Linked DNA regions of Homo sapiens. The protein of the gene in region 1 interacts with the protein of each later gene in a pairwise test. Each region holds a gene or a part of one and is shown on either strand. Other genes may lie near its edges.

What was found. The genes of interacting proteins can lie anywhere in the genome.
Region 2: the proteins of OTUB2 (region 1) and TRIM26 interact in a two-hybrid assay, tested with the Homo sapiens proteins (one large-scale study listed by BioGRID).
Region 3: the proteins of OTUB2 (region 1) and ARRDC3 interact in binary tests that used the Homo sapiens proteins (3 or more experiments, as listed by UniProt).
Region 4: the proteins of OTUB2 (region 1) and RNF126 interact in a two-hybrid assay, tested with the Homo sapiens proteins (one large-scale study listed by BioGRID).

The regions. Positions count from the first base shown.
Region 1 is NC_000014.9:94,036,340-94,039,839, reverse strand, and holds part of OTUB2 (ubiquitin thioesterase OTUB2), read right to left. Parts: intron 2,461-3,500; coding exon 2,365-2,460; intron 878-2,364; coding exon 759-877; intron 1-758. UniProt on the Homo sapiens protein: Hydrolase that can remove conjugated ubiquitin from proteins in vitro and may therefore play an important regulatory role at the level of protein turnover by preventing degradation.
Region 2 is NC_000006.12:30,183,698-30,187,113, forward strand, and holds the end of TRIM26 (tripartite motif-containing protein 26), read right to left. Parts: intron 2,862-3,416; coding exon 2,179-2,861; 3' UTR 758-2,178; downstream 1-757.
Region 3 is NC_000005.10:91,373,061-91,377,250, reverse strand, and holds part of ARRDC3 (arrestin domain-containing protein 3), read left to right. Parts: intron 1-482; coding exon 483-630; intron 631-1,637; coding exon 1,638-1,740; intron 1,741-2,072; coding exon 2,073-2,329; intron 2,330-2,974; coding exon 2,975-3,137; intron 3,138-3,374; exon of another isoform or gene 3,375-3,412; coding exon 3,413-3,567; intron 3,568-4,190. UniProt on the Homo sapiens protein: Adapter protein that plays a role in regulating cell-surface expression of adrenergic receptors and probably also other G protein-coupled receptors.
Region 4 is NC_000019.10:656,458-660,647, forward strand, and holds part of RNF126 (E3 ubiquitin-protein ligase RNF126), read right to left. Parts: intron 1-4,190. UniProt on the Homo sapiens protein: E3 ubiquitin-protein ligase that mediates ubiquitination oF target proteins. Depending on the associated E2 ligase, mediates 'Lys-27'-, 'Lys-29'-, 'Lys-48'- and/or 'Lys-63'-linked polyubiquitination of substrates.

The DNA.
Region 1 (3,500 bases):
CCATGGCCCTCACCAAAGCCTCTAAGGGCTCTGAGACCCCCAAAGGTTAAGAGCCAGGTGGGTCTCTTAGCTCCTTGCTCCTCAAAGCGTGGTTTGAGGCCCAGCAGCATCAGCATCTCCTGGGAGCCAGTGACAAAAGCAGTCCCTGCTCTGCCCTGCTCCCACTGGACAGGAATTCGGGTCCAAGCCAGGTCTCAGGGGTTTGTTTGTCTTTGCTTTTTTTTTTCTTGCTATGGACTAGAGAACCAGGCGCCTTGTACAAACTTCAGATATGAGAAGCCCTGAACTAGCCGAGATGACAGGGGCAGCTCTGGACACAGACCTTCTCCAGCATGAACCTCAGGGACAGGCCCAGCCAGCTGAATGCCTGGGTCACACACACTCCACACCAAGGTCAACAGGAATTATGCAGAACACCGGGGCAAAGCTTCTTTTTGTTTGTCTTTTCTTTTCTTTTCAGAGTGGGTCACGAAGTACCTGCTCCCTGCGACTCACCTGGGCTGACCCAGGCCTGTGGTGGAAGCAGAGGCTGGAAAGCATCTGGGAGGTCACAGATTCCATCCTCCACCCCTTGGCTGCCCCCAACTTCACCACAGCAGGCAGCTGGGCACCCCCAACATCAAACGCCTCTGCCAGGCAGCTCTTCAGCTCATTCTCTGGGTTAACCAGCCTGAGTGTAACGAAAACCTCCGAGAGACTTGAGGCTGACCTAGCACAGAGAACACAGCCCTGACAGGCCAAGGGGCCCCGGCACTCACTTGAAGATCTCCCTGCTCTTCCCCAGCAGGGACTCCAGGTAGGAATAGCCCAAGGCCCTGTAGAAGCAGTTCCCATCCCCTTTGGTCTTGCGGATGGCGGTGAACCTTTTGCTGAGTTCCTGAGGGGGACAGAAAGAAATGTGGGCATTTGCACCAACAACGGCTCTGTGTGGTTTGGGCACTGGGACTGGCCAGGTGCCCCCCATCTCTCCCAGGAAATGTCTGCTCCCTCCCTTCAGGCTGCTATCCCCTCAGCCTCCCACCCTCGTTCATTCCCCTGATATAAAAATACACTGCATTGTCCTGTGTGTCCGTCCCTGCCCCCAGGCAGCCTACGGTCCGGGAGGGAAGATGGATAATTAGACAGTGGCATTGTGAGGGGACAGGAGTGCCTGGCTGGGTGCCACGGGGCACTGGCATTGCACTGGATTTTGGAAGTTGGGGAAGCCTTCCTGGGGGAGCAGCACTGAGAATCGGGAGCTGGCAGAAGTAGGGGGTAGGGGGTTGCATGTGTGAGCAGGGGCGGGAGGGGTGGGCTCCAGCTCCACTCCTAGCAGTAAGTAGGTGTCCCTCTGAACTGGCCTGGAATCCCCTTTCCTGCCTCATGGGACTATAAGCAGCATTTTGACAGCAGAGGATGGTTTTCAAGGGGTCTTGGAGTTCCTGTTCCCCCCATAGCCATGAGAAGGCTCAGAGCCGACTTGGGCCCACCTGAGGCCAGCTGGCAGTGGGGAGGCAGGCACTCTCTGGAGCCCCTGGCTCATCTCCCAGGAGGGCTCTGGGGGACACAAAAGTCAGTGGGCTGCAGAGCCCAGCTCCTTCCCTGGAAGTGCCCCGCAGCGGCGTTCGGATCACATGATGCCCACACCACTACCCCTGGCTGCTGATGGACATCTGACCCAAGCTGGACCTATCAGAGTCTCTGAGGATAAGTAATGAGGCCCAGCAACGGTGCTGCGTGTCTGAGAGGAACTTGAAGGGAAGGGCCTGTGGGGCCAGTGCCAGAGCAAGCCTGTCCTGCAGCGAGAGGAAGACCTGCAGAGTGCAGAGAGCGGCCAGGGCCTCCTACCAGAGGGACAGAGTGGGCACCCAGCTCCTCCTGCCATCCACGGGTGAGTGCTCCATGAGCGATCCCTGCAGCCTTCCCACAAATCCCTTTAGCCTCACTGGCGTAAACTTTCCCTCCAAGAGGTCTCCCAGCACAGCAGTTATGAATGTGGCTTGAGACTCAGCTGCCTGGGTTTAAATCCTAGCTTGGCCACTCATGAACTAAATGGCCACCACTTAATTTGTGTGCCTCAGTTTCCTCAGCTGTAAAATGGGGGTAATAAAAGTACTTACCTCACAGAGTTGTAATGAAGTATTGGTGAGTAAATAAAACATTAGGATAGTGCTAAACTTTTCAACAAAAAAAAATCCTTTTTTTTTTTTTGGAATGAAAGGATTTATCGCTAAGGCAAATGTCCAACATCAAAATATCCTAGGAATCCTTTCATTTGCCCAGGAACCTGGCCCAAACTATCGGCCTTCAAAGAGGCATCACCATTACACTCCCAACTCCAGCCTGTTTAGTTTCGGATGCTCTTCTCCCTGCCCTCTGCCTCACCTCGATTTTCCTCCGGTAAATCCTGTTTTCAGGATGGTCCCGAAGAATGGATAGAATGTCACATTTTTCTGATATTAGGTTGAAAGATGTTTCACTCTGAAAGATAGGGAAGGAAGAAATGCTGTGACAATTTCAAAAGCAACGGACGGGACTCCCCGAGCTGGTGGCCTCTGAACTGCCGGTTACAGACAACAATGAATGAGACCTTCCCACCTTCTCATGCTGGGAGTATGTTACCAGCATCCTAGACGCCCGTTGGGATCACCGCATTTCCAGAACAGGGATAGTCAGGGTCGGGGCCATCGTGAAGAGATAGCCCTGGTTATAAGGAAACTCATCTTTTTACTGGAAGCCTGATTCATTTCACAGAATGTGTACCTCAAACTTAACGAACCTTCATGCTGGAGGATAAGGCCCTTTGTCTCCTTCCATCCCTCTTCTCTCATTCATGCATTCATTCATTCGTTCATTCATTCTTTTACTCATCCAACAATTCCTGAACATCCACATGCCCAGCACTGTGTCACATGCTGGAAATACAGAAGGAAGGACGTCTAGCACTCCCTCACCCACAAGGCTCACAGTCTACAGGGAAAAACAATCAAGATAGGGGGTGATAAGGTCACCAGAAGAGGCCGCAGTGTGTGGCACTGGTACATGGAGATGCCAGAGAAGGTGTCAGAGATCTGAGCTCGGGGAGCACAGGGCAGGAGGGCATCTTCATGCACCACCTACCGGCGAAAGTTTACACTACAGCCCAGCTCTGGGTCTAGGTCAATTCCAACCCAGAAAGACAAGCCTCCTACAGGCAGGATCTCTCCAGGCCAGAGAAGAAATTGGCGGACAGAGAGGAGGCAACTGCAAAAGGAAGCTTCAGGGTGAAGGAAACTGCAGGAGACACGTTCTAGCAGCCAACTCCCCGTGGGCCTGGTCTCCGCCTTGTGCTATCTTGTCAGCAGGGCTCAAACAAGCAGGAGATGCAACTCTAGCCTCCAACCCACCCAGAGCCGCTTTGATTGCAGCATGAACATACTGTGAGAGACATGGTGTTAAAGCCACTTATAGTTTACAGCTTAAAATAAATGAGGCTGGCTCCTGCACACAACCCAGGGAGACCATTTTTATGCAATAGAGCA
Region 2 (3,416 bases), on another chromosome or scaffold:
ATGGCTCACGCCTGTAATCCCAGCACTTTGGGAGGCCGAGGTGGGTGGATCATGAGGTCAGGAGATCAAGACCAACCTGGCTAACATGGTGAAACCCCGTCTCTACTAAAAATACAAAAAAATTAGCCGGGCGTGATGGCGGGCGCCTGTAGTTCCAGCTACTCGGGAGGCTGAGGCAGGAGAATGGCGTGAACCCGGGAGGCAGAGCTTGCAGTGAGCCGAGATGGCGCCACTGCACTCCAAACTGGGAGACAGAGTGAGACTCCATCTCAAAAAAAAAAAAAAAAAAAAAAAAAAAAAAAAAAAAAAAAAAAAAAATCAGAAAGGACAAGAAAAACAGTTGACTGTGTTAGGATGCAAGGCTGAATCTCTGCACATTCTATTTCCTCTGAGGCAGTGCTTATTTTCCAAGGAAGAATTTTTGGGTGTGCTATACTGGAGGTCTCCCTTCTCAGGGAGAGTCATCACTTGCTCCAAAACGCTGGACCTCAGCTCAAGGGCACCACTGCAGGAGGAATAAAAAGGTGGAGCCACGCAACAACTCGTCTGTGTTCCGCAGTAGGCTCTTTTTGAGGGACTTCCAGAAATGACAGCATGTGTGCAGAGAACAGAAAGCAAAGTTACACTGTTACAGAAGGCACAGAAGGAAAACCTTCGGCTACTGCTATCAGTGGAATTTCTCTGTAGCCAGACTGAGGTCTGGTGGCATTTGAGATATAATATAGATATAGACCTACAAATACAGATCTCCAGGCTGTTCATTCAACAAGTCTTTATTGAGCACCTACTCTGTGCCCAGCACTGCACTAGGTGCCATGAGAATACAAGAGTAGTATAAGATGTTATCCGCCCTCCAGGAGCTTACAAAACTAGAGGCAGAAATAAGATGTACATGTGACTCAGGCAGCATGTGACACACACAAAGTGGGCAGCTCTGAGACAATGGTGGTCAAGTGACCACTGAGGCCCAGAGCCGTTGGAACAGTCTCTTAGAACAGGGTGGAGGACTTAAAACTTGGATGAACAGGGGCTGGCAGAGCACTTGGAATGGGTAAGGACAAGACTGGGAGATCAATTTGGCTGGAGCAGGGGAGCTTGTGTTAAACTGTGATGATGAGGGGCACCTGGACAGAGGTTGGGTCCGTGGGCAATGAGAAGACATGTTACTCCCTCTCTTGACATGAAGACCTGGTGGGCTTGTGGCCTCCTGCTGCCTTCCTTTCCCTGTCTTCCCATCTCCACTCTCTCCTAGGAAAGTGGAACCTGGATGCTGGTAGGGCCAGAGACAGAGGCTTAACACCCTGCTGGGGAACCCGGTCAGAACTCCCGAGGCAGGAGAGGTTCTGCTCCACTGGATGTTTGTCTTGGTGTTTTTGGATGTGCTGATCAAGAGCAAGATGTTCTGGATTCTTAAAACTCCCCTCACAAGGACCAATCTAGAGATAATTTATTGATCAGTGATCACAGCTTGTACCCCAAAGCCGTGTATGTCTGGATCCTTCCCTAAGACCACAGATAGCTCCAGGGAGTCCCACCTCCTTGGCTATGGAAATATGCTCAGCCCTGGTTTCAGAGAAGCCTGGACTCCACTCTGGACCCCATGAGATGATATGCGCTGGTACTCCAGGCTTTAAATGGCCTGGGAAGCCTCAGTGGATTTTGTTTATTTTCAGCATTGCCATGTATGCTTAACTCTGAGTTGGGGTGGGGTAGGTCTGTTTAAAATGCCAGGGAAGGTGGGCAGCAGAGTGGATTTGTGCAAGAAGGAACCTGGGGGGTTTAAGGACAGCAAAATGATCTTAGGCGTAATTGACTGGTTTTTCTGAGGTCTTGCCACACTGGGCAAGAAAATGCTGCATCGGGCCCTTATTCCAGAGAGTGCAGAGCTGGGGCCAAGGTCGTGGTCAAAAAGGAAAGGAGCCCTCATGGACTCCAGGGTCAGAAGTTCCCTCGGGAAACCAGCAGGAGGTGGGAAAAGAGCCCCATTAGGGCAGTAGATGGAGCAACAGCACTGAGTGAGATTTCAGGGGGCCACAGCAATGGGGAGGTGGCTACCAGTGGATATGGGGTCCCCTGCTCCAGGTGCTTAGGCCAGGCATCCCGTCCCCCCATTGAGAGTCCTGGAATTCCAAAGAAGTGAAGCATCTGAGGGTTGGGGCTGGGGGCAGATGTCAGGGCTCAGGGTCTTAGCAGGAGGCGTGTTCCTGGCCACTTGAGCCACAGGAAGGGGACCAGGCGCCGGGTGAAGGTGGCAGTGAAGGTGTAGATGAGTTCCTGTGACTCTGCGTTGGTGAAAGTCACGGTGCCCCCTTCATAATCCAGGGCGATGCCCACTCTCCGGGGCCGCAGTGCTGGGAAAAGCTCAGCCTCGGGGCTGGTGTTGGCCCAGATGCCGGAGGAGGAGAGGCGCAGCGCCCACACGCCATCCTCTGGCCGCAGGGAGAGGTCTCCCTTCCTCTTCACAGAGTCTCTAGCCACCCCCACCATGCAGCTTTCCAGAACTTCCTCCTCTTCCTCCTCCTCTTCTTCCTCTTCATCGCCCAACGATTCCTCATCTTCGTCCGTTTCCCAGTCGTCATATCCATCCCCATAGCCGGCCTCCTCTTCCTCCTCCTCCTCTTCTCCCTCTTCCTCCTCATCCCCCTCTTCTTCATCCTCAGACCAGCCCTCCCTCTCCACTTCCACTTCCCAGTAGACCTTGCCCCAGGTGAAGCCCTTGCTGCCTAGCACCCCAGGCTCACAGTCAAACTGCTGGGGGTGCAGGTAGGCACTCTTGTACAGGCTGGTGTAGGTCACGCACTTCCAGTCCTCTGACAGCTGCAGGTACCCACTGGCCGACTGTGGGTCCAGGGTGACGCTCACTGTGGGGACAAGGGAAAAAAAAAAAAACAGCATCACTGTTTTGTTTTGTTTTTTAAGTCAGAGGGAATAAAATTTATTTTGGCAGATAGCGTTAAACAAAATTAAAGTTGCATACATTAGTAATATAACTCAACATCCTTAATTTGGTATAAGTGTGACACATTTTCTGGCTTTGTATTCTGCTAAATCACCATAACTAAACTGCTTTATAAACATGATATACTGAAATTTAACTTGACTGTTTTCGCTTACGCTCTGATTCCAAACAAAACTTTTCATAAGCTTCCTCTATCTCTGGATCTCTGGGTCCAACTCATCATTAATATCATCCAAGTGTGGATCACCAGTCCCTGAAAAATCTGTTCCATTTTCTTCATAATCCAGAAAAAAAGTCCTCTTTTTCAAGTAACTCTTGATATGCTTCTTGGTAATCCGGATCAGCTGCAGTGAAAGGAACACTATGAAACACAATAACTATGTGAATGACCACTATAAAATGTTGGTTCATTCACATAGTAATTGGGATCTTTTTTGGCTGTTGTATTTCTGTATGA
Region 3 (4,190 bases), on another chromosome or scaffold:
TATTCCAGGCCTTTTCTAGACCTTAGTTAGTTGCTATTAAAAGATGATAATTCCCGGCTAATGAGAAGTGGAGTACTATAGGGAATTTGGTCTGAATGTTTAACCAGTGTCTAGAATTTATCAGTAGAAATAGTTAAACCATTCTCAACTTTGTGTTTGAATTCTTGGCCTTTTCAAAAAATGCCCATTAAACTTTCATGATTTTGCCACCATCATTAAAAGTAGCCTCCTCTTAGTTTAAATGGATTGTATTCTTCTGGCTTTTTAAAGCAAAATTTTAAAGATATTTATTGTTTATTCTTAGTTGGAAATAGGAAGTTTTTTCCCCAGTGACTTATCCCTTTGGAAATTTTTTAAATTATATGTTTGATACCTCATTGGAACATAAACAATACAATATATTAACACTTCTATTCTGACCTACTGTGTAATTGTTAGAAAGAGGTATAAAATTAATATATTGACCTTTATATTCTGCACAGACCACTCGCTACCTCATTCGAAGGCCGACATGGCAGTGTGCGCTATTGGGTGAAAGCCGAATTGCACAGGCCTTGGCTACTACCAGTAAAATTAAAGAAGGAATTTACAGTCTTTGAGCATATAGATATCAACACTCCTTCATTACTGGTAAGAATTGACTGAATTATTTATTCTTTGTTTTTGGCATATAAATATTAAAGAATAATCAATCACCTAAACTATGCAGTTGTCATAATTTAAAAATACTGGTTTTCTTTTAAAATTTCATAAATATACATTTTCTTAAATACAGTCAAGAACACTGAAATTAATGAAAAATATGCTCATATTTTTGACATTGTAGTATACCTTTAAGTAAATATAAAACTAAGACCAGTATATGATATGAAGTATCTCTTACTCAGAGTATGACAGCCATAACAAAAAACAGATCTGGTCCTTGGATGATTTGAGTGGAAGAAGAGCAGTAGTATCTTTTATTATAATACAATATCACTTACTTGACAATATCATAATCTAAAATTTGTACTATACTTTGTTATTCCAATAGAGGGATAGTTGTCAAATAATGGGGAATCATTAGTTTCATTAAAAAACTCCTTTTTTAAAGAAATCTATTTTTAATTGCATTTGTCTGAAAATAATTCAAATTTGACTTAAAACTTTATTTGATTTAAACAAATGGTAACATCTTTAAAGCACATAAGAAATGGGCATTTTCCTTTTTTACATATTGATTTTTTAATAGTCTCAGAGAAAGATGTTAACATTTGGAATTATAATCAGATTGCTTTCTTTGCTGCCTTTTTAAGGCAGTTTAAATGGAATGTGGAAAGGGTTTTTTTTATTTGGTTGGTTTTTGATTACTATATTTGTAAATAGTGTGAGCTAAAAAACTATGTTTATGGGATAGGCTGTAAACCCTTTACCTTTTTTTTCTAATTGAATGGAAATTTATATGAAAATAAAAGTAATGGTATAATTCAAAACCATCGGTTAGTTAAAAAATAAGAAGTATGTCTGGATACAAAAAAAAAGCAAAACCAGTTGTAATTTTTAATTTTCCATAAATTTAGGGTTATATTTTAAAATATTCTGGTATTGATTGTACCAATCCATACACTGACCTTTTTCTCTTAATTTTTTTCTTACAGTCACCCCAAGCAGGCACAAAAGAAAAGACACTCTGTTGCTGGTTCTGTACCTCAGGCCCAATATCCTTAAGTGCCAAAATTGAAAGGAAGGGCTATACCCCAGGTATGTAAGAGGTAGATTCCCACAAAAAACTTTTCTTCACTTAGCTTTTGTGTTTAAATTTATAATATGACTACTAAATATAAACATAATATAGTATTCTTTTGTGAAATAACAAATTGTGCTTATCCATTTGTTTTTTTCACAAAGTAGAATGTAGTTTCCTTTTTCAAATAGCTACTGATTAGTTCATTTCTATGACTCAAGTTATTTGCAGTTCCTGGGACATCTTTTCATGTATGTTAGTTGCACTTTCTTACTTTAGCTTTAAGAATCTTGACTTCTTTTGTTGTTTTTTTCTAACAGTAGATATGTATATATTTTTCCCTCTCTAGGTGAATCAATTCAGATATTTGCTGAGATTGAGAACTGCTCTTCCCGAATGGTGGTGCCAAAGGCAGCCATTTACCAAACACAGGCCTTCTATGCCAAAGGGAAAATGAAGGAAGTAAAACAGCTTGTGGCTAACTTGCGTGGGGAATCCTTATCATCTGGAAAGACAGAGACGTGGAATGGCAAGTTGCTGAAAATTCCACCAGTTTCTCCCTCTATCCTCGACTGTAGTATAATCCGCGTGGAATATTCACTAATGGTATGTACACATTTAAGAGGTTTTTTCCTTTCTTTTTTCTTTTTTGAAACACCTGTCACCCAGGCTGGAATGCAGTGGCACAGTCTCAGCTCCGCTACAGCCTCTGCTTTCTGGGCTCCAGTGATCCTCCCACCTCAGCTCCCAAGTAGTTGGGACTACAGGTGTGCCTATAGCCATGCCTGGATAATTTTTGTATTTTTTGTAGTGATGGAGTTTGACCATGTCGCCCAGGTTGGTCTTGAACTCCTGGGCTCAAGTGATCCATCCACCATGGCCTCCCAAAATGTTGGAATTATAGGCATGAGCCACAGTGCCTGGCCCAAGAGGTTTTTGGTGTTTTTTTTTGTTTTGTTTTTAAGTCTTAAAGTTATGACATAGTTTTGTCTTACATCCAGGATTTGATTTTTTTAAATTCCATATATAGTGACATATAAAATACATAACTCTTTATATAGTTTGACTTACAATTATACCTTATATGTAAATGTACTATACAGAATTATACATAAAAGAGAAACTTTTCATGTATGTAAGTTTAAAAATGAAGTAAATGGGGGTTTCAAATAACATTAAAATTGGTTATGAGTTTTTGAAAAGGAAATCATACTTGGCATTCTAAACTTAATATTTCTTTGCAATGTTTAGGTATATGTGGATATTCCTGGAGCTATGGATTTATTTCTTAATTTGCCACTTGTCATCGGTACCATTCCTCTACATCCATTTGGTAGCAGAACCTCAAGTGTAAGCAGTCAGTGTAGCATGAATATGAACTGGCTCAGTTTATCACTTCCTGAAAGACCTGAAGGTAATTTGATAATACACGTCTAAGCTTAATCTCTTACTACTATTATCAAGAAAATTATTTTGCCTCTGATATTTTATGACCCTAGATGAACATAATCTTTTCCTAAAGAAAGTAGATGTGCCCCTAATATTCAGTTTTGATTATATGTCTTCATAGTTTTGATCACCAAACAATAATTATTTTACCTTGACGTTGCTTTTTAATACCTACTATTCTGTGTATTTTGACATGCATAAGAACATGCTGTTCGAATTGCGTGTATCTTTTTCCTTCAGCACCACCCAGCTATGCAGAAGTGGTAACAGAGGAACAAAGGCGGAACAATCTTGCACCAGTGAGTGCTTGTGATGACTTTGAGAGAGCCCTTCAAGGACCACTGTTTGCATATATCCAGGAGTTTCGATTCTTGCCTCCACCTCTTTATTCAGAGGTAAGTACCTACTCCTTAAGTATGAAATGAACTGGCTATCTTGGGAAATAGCATTGCAGGCATTTTTTTTTCTTAATGTTATTAGATCTTGATTATCATGTTAACAGAACAAATAATTTAAAACAACAGATTAAAAGTTAATATTAGGTTCATCAATATTTACTAAGTTTGATGCAGAGGTAGGACTGTTCACTTATTAGGGAATTAAGATAATGATCTAACCTCATGTTGAATTACTAATTTTTTTTTCTCTTAAACTTTTATCTTGAGACACATTTTTTGAAGGAAGAATTTTGTATATCCAAGCATCAATAGGAAGAACTAGCATTTTGCAAACACTGATTAAATAGTAGAATTTATCTTATTCATGATGCTTTTCCAATTGCATATTTTGACATTCTCAGTCATAAGAAATAATGTATTTGTGATAACATCTTAAAACAACATTCCCACATGGTTAGACTATTTTCGTTCATCTCATATTGATGGCAGCTAAGCACTTAAATGTAAATAAAACATGGCCCTTAGGAGAAACCCACAGATTACTGAGGAAAACAAGCTAAGAAGCAAAATATTATGTAATAATGTGATAAAATGCACAGCTCATTTGAGAAGCAGCTTAT
Region 4 (4,190 bases), on another chromosome or scaffold:
AGCCAACATAGGGAAATACCGTCTCTACTAAAAATACAAAAATTAGCTGGGCACGGTGGTGGGTGCCTGTAATCCCAGCTACTCAGGAGCTGAGGCACGAGAATCGCTTAAACCCGGCAGGCAGAGGTTGCAGTGAGCCGAGATCATACCACTGCACTCCAGCCTGGGCCACAGAGTGAGACCGTGTCAGAAAAAGAAAAAGAAAAAGGGAAAGGGGAAGGGGAAGCAGCCAACGACCACCACTGTGGCCCTGAGCTTAGTGTGGGAGCAGTGTGGCTCTGCCACAGTGGCCGTGACAACTCTCCCCAGGCGTCGGTTCTTGGGGTGTGTTTGGGGTGTCGGGATTGGGACGCCCCACGTAAACACGCTGAGACTTCACAGTCAAATCTGAACCCCTGGTTTCTGCCGGTGTCGGGTCTATCGGGGCTCCTCTGGGCTCAGGGGTTGCCGCCGTCCGCCCGCCAGCTGACCGGGAGCCCAGGGCCGCTCCATCGCCTGGGTGGGTCTCTGGGAATGGAGGGGTAGCTCAGGGCTCAGGCTCTCCCTGCATGGTGACTCCCCAGGCTAGCACCACCCAGTGGACCTGGAACAGCTGCACTGGCCCCCACTGAGGGCAGGACGTAAGTCAGCTGTGCAGCTGCCCCGACCACCATCTCTCCTGCTGGGTGCATCCACAAGGTCAGGCAGCCCCAGAAGGGCCTGAGGGAGAAGCTGTCTCCCTCTGAGGACCCTGGCTTGCCAGCCCCAGCCCCGAATCTCTCCTGGACAAGCACGAGGCCCTGCACACGCCCACGTGGCCTGGCACAGCGCTCGGCCGCTCTGGTCCCCATGTGCCGAGCTCAGCCCCTCTGTGCATCACTGGCTTTCTGTCGGGCTCCCGGGTTCCCGTCTCAGTCCAGGGCACAACGCATGCTCCCGCCACCCGCACTGCCGGCTCACGACAGCCCGACCTGGCCACATACACACTCATCTGCCCCAGCCCTGGCCTCCTCTTGGCCCCCGCTGTCCTGCCCGCAGCGGCCGTGGGGCCTGGTGCCACAGCACTGTCCAGAACCCTCTCTCTGCAGCACCCACTCCAGCGTCGGGGCCTGTGCACGTCGGCCCTGCTGCTGGAACGCCCACCCTAGGGGTTTCAAAGGTCACCTCTCTGCTCCAAGCCTCTGCCCTGTCACAGAGGACAGCCTGGACACTCACTCATATCTGAAATCCGGGTGCCATCGAGGACGCCAAGGGCTGCGACCCAACTCCTGCGTATTGTCAGGGCTCTGGGCTGTCTCTCAGGCCCCCGGCCAGCCCCTCCAGGGCCACCGAAGGCCGGAACCGAGGCTCTGGTCACGAAGGCAAGTGACAGGTGGATCCCGGATATCCAGGGTGGAGGTTGAGCCTCTGCTGGCCGACGGTGGGAGGGGCTGGACCTGGGGGTCTCCAGCCGCCCTCCTCCTCCAAGGGCACAGCCAAGAGACCGCTTGGTCTCGTATTAAATCGGGGCAGCTGCAGGTAGAAACGCCTGGGCAAGGGGGCCTGGTGAAGGAGCTGCCCCACCTTCTCCGGGGGCAGCACGCACTGGGGGCCCCCACAGAGGCCCCATTGGAGCCTCTGGCCCTAGCAGAAGACGGTGAATCCATTCACCTCTCCGTCAGAGAACAGATGCAGGAGGTACGATCACCCGGCATCATCACCATAGCAACAGCTGGCCAGGCAGCCAGGGTAGGGGGGACCCTGCCAGTGCCGGGCTCCACCCATGCACCCCTGCAGCGTGATGGCCTCATCCCCGGGTGGGACCTGGCAGGGCAGCAGAGGCCCCTTCATCCACGGGGCCTGCACGGGGCGCATGTCCTGAGGGCCCAGGGCCAGGCGCATGGAGGGGAGTGGGCTGGCGACCTACAGGCCCCAGATGACTGACAGTGACCAGGGCAGGCAGGCCCCTGGTGACAGTGACTCGGCCCCTGTGGGTGGCAGGGCCCTCGGGAAGCTGTGCACATCAGGAGACCCCAGGGAGAGTCATGGTGCAGTGCTCGGCCTCGGTAGGAGCCCCCGTGCTGGCTACTGTTTTCCTAAAGGGTGCCCAAAGCTTCCCGGCTGATCCACAGTGTGTGGGCCCCGCAGCCCCAGAGGCACGGGCACGTGCGGCGCCTGCACCCCTTTCTTCCCGCCCTCAGCAGCTGCCACCACATCCCACATTCACACCGTCTGTCCCTGGGCCCCACGCACCACACACTCCCAAGACAAGCTGGATGGACGAGGCGTGAGCGAAGCCACTGCCTCAGCCCAGGCTGGGGCCCCGCCTCACACCCCAGGGCGTGCCTCGGCCCAGGCCCCGAACTCTGCCTTCTTCTTCCCAGGTGGCTTCAGGCACCACCACTAGGGACTGGAACCCCACAGGTGCCCATCCGTGCCAGTGCCAGGGGTGCTACGGCTCGCCCGAGGCTCAGAGGAAGGTCCTCATGGTGGCAGAGTTCTAAGTGGGAGGAAATTCAGCACCGGCATCTGCCCGAGGCAGACCCCAGCGCCAGCCGGCCAGAGAGGGCAGCCGACATCCACAGGTTCCCGGGGTATTGCTGGTGCCCGATCACAACGCCAGGCTCCATGTTCACAGGGTGCTGCAGGGAGCCCGTTCCGGAGAACCCAGCTGTGCAGAGCCGCTCCAGGGTGCTGGCCGGACGCTTGAGAGGCAGGGGCAGGCTGTCACTGTCACGGTATCTGGCACAACCGCAGACACACAGAGCAAGCAGCGGCCAGAGACAGACCCAGGCCGTCTTCTGAAGACTCGGGCCAGGCCGCCGCAGGGACCAGGAGAAGACAGGGTGGGCCGGGGGGCAGCTGGGGAGACTTCCCGCCTGGCCCCATCAGTGACACTGGCCGTAGCAGCCCTCACTTCCTGGTGGCTCCCCGCCCACGCCGGCTCTTCCCCGCCACCGTGGGCGGCAGGGCCCAGCACCCCCACCGTCCTCTCACCGCCACTTGGGGACACTGCGGAGGTTGCAGGCGTTCGGGGGTGGGGGGTCGGCAGGCAGAGCTGGAACCACCCTAGGAACCACCCAGAGACGGGGAGGTCAGGGGCAAGGACGGCACGCAGGGCCACCTCCCTGCGCCCGCCTGGTTCCTGGGGGCTCAGTGCCCTCAGCAGCTCTCGCCCACACCCTACAGTCACAGCTCCAGTCAGTGCCTCCTCAGCAGGCTCGAGTCTGGGTCTGCGCAGCCGCCTGTGGCCTGAGCTCCAGCTGGCCTGTCTGGTTCCTGCCGCCACACGCCCCACTCTGGCTGACGCTCCCTTTGCTGCTCAGACACCCAGACACCCTCGTCATCGCCTTTTTTTTTTTTTTTTGGAAGGAGTCTTGCTCTGTCACCCAGGCTGGACTGCAGTGGCACAATCTCGGCTCACTGCAACCTCCGCCTTCCAGGTTCAAGCAATTCTCCCGCCTCAGCCTCCTAAGTCACTGGGACTACAGGTGCCTGCCACCACGCCTGGCCAATCTTTTGTATTTTTAGTAGGGATGGGGTTTTACCATGTTAGCCAGGCTGGTCTCGAACTCCTGACCTCAGGTGATCCGTCCACCTCAGCCTCCCAAAGCGATGGGACCACAGGCGTGAGCCACCGCGCTCGGCCTCATCACAGCCTTTCATGGGGGCAACTGCTGCCCCTGTGCCGTCGTCGCCTGAGCCCCCGACCGCAAGTGTGGCTCCCCGCTCAGGACACCCTCACGAGTCACCAGGAGAGCGGCCAGGTGCCGGCCACTCTGCACACACGTGCCCACCAGATGCCACGGGGAGCGAATCGCATCACTAAACCCACTTGGCAGGTGAGGAGACTGAGGCCAAGGCTGCCCAGCAGAGAATGACCCAGCTGCGCGGGGCCTCAGCCTGATCCCAGAGCCCAGGACAGCAAAGGAGGCCCGGAACGGCCCAGCTGCCTGGGAGAAGCCCTCGTGGGCAGGCACACAGCCCATGGCAGCCAGTCCCCCCTGCGTCAGAGGCAGGCAGGAGCTTCCCGACAGCCAGCCCAGGTGTCTCAGCAGCAGCAGTGCCGCCCCTGACTCAGCCGCCGGGCAAGCTCCCCAGCGGCAGAGACGCCCCGTTTCGAGGGCACTGGTTGTGGCTGGGGACTTTCCCCATTGCCAGATACGGAGCAGCCGTCCCTCCCCAGAACAAACGCCAGGTGTGCCCATTTCCCAGCATAAAAAATTCGTTTT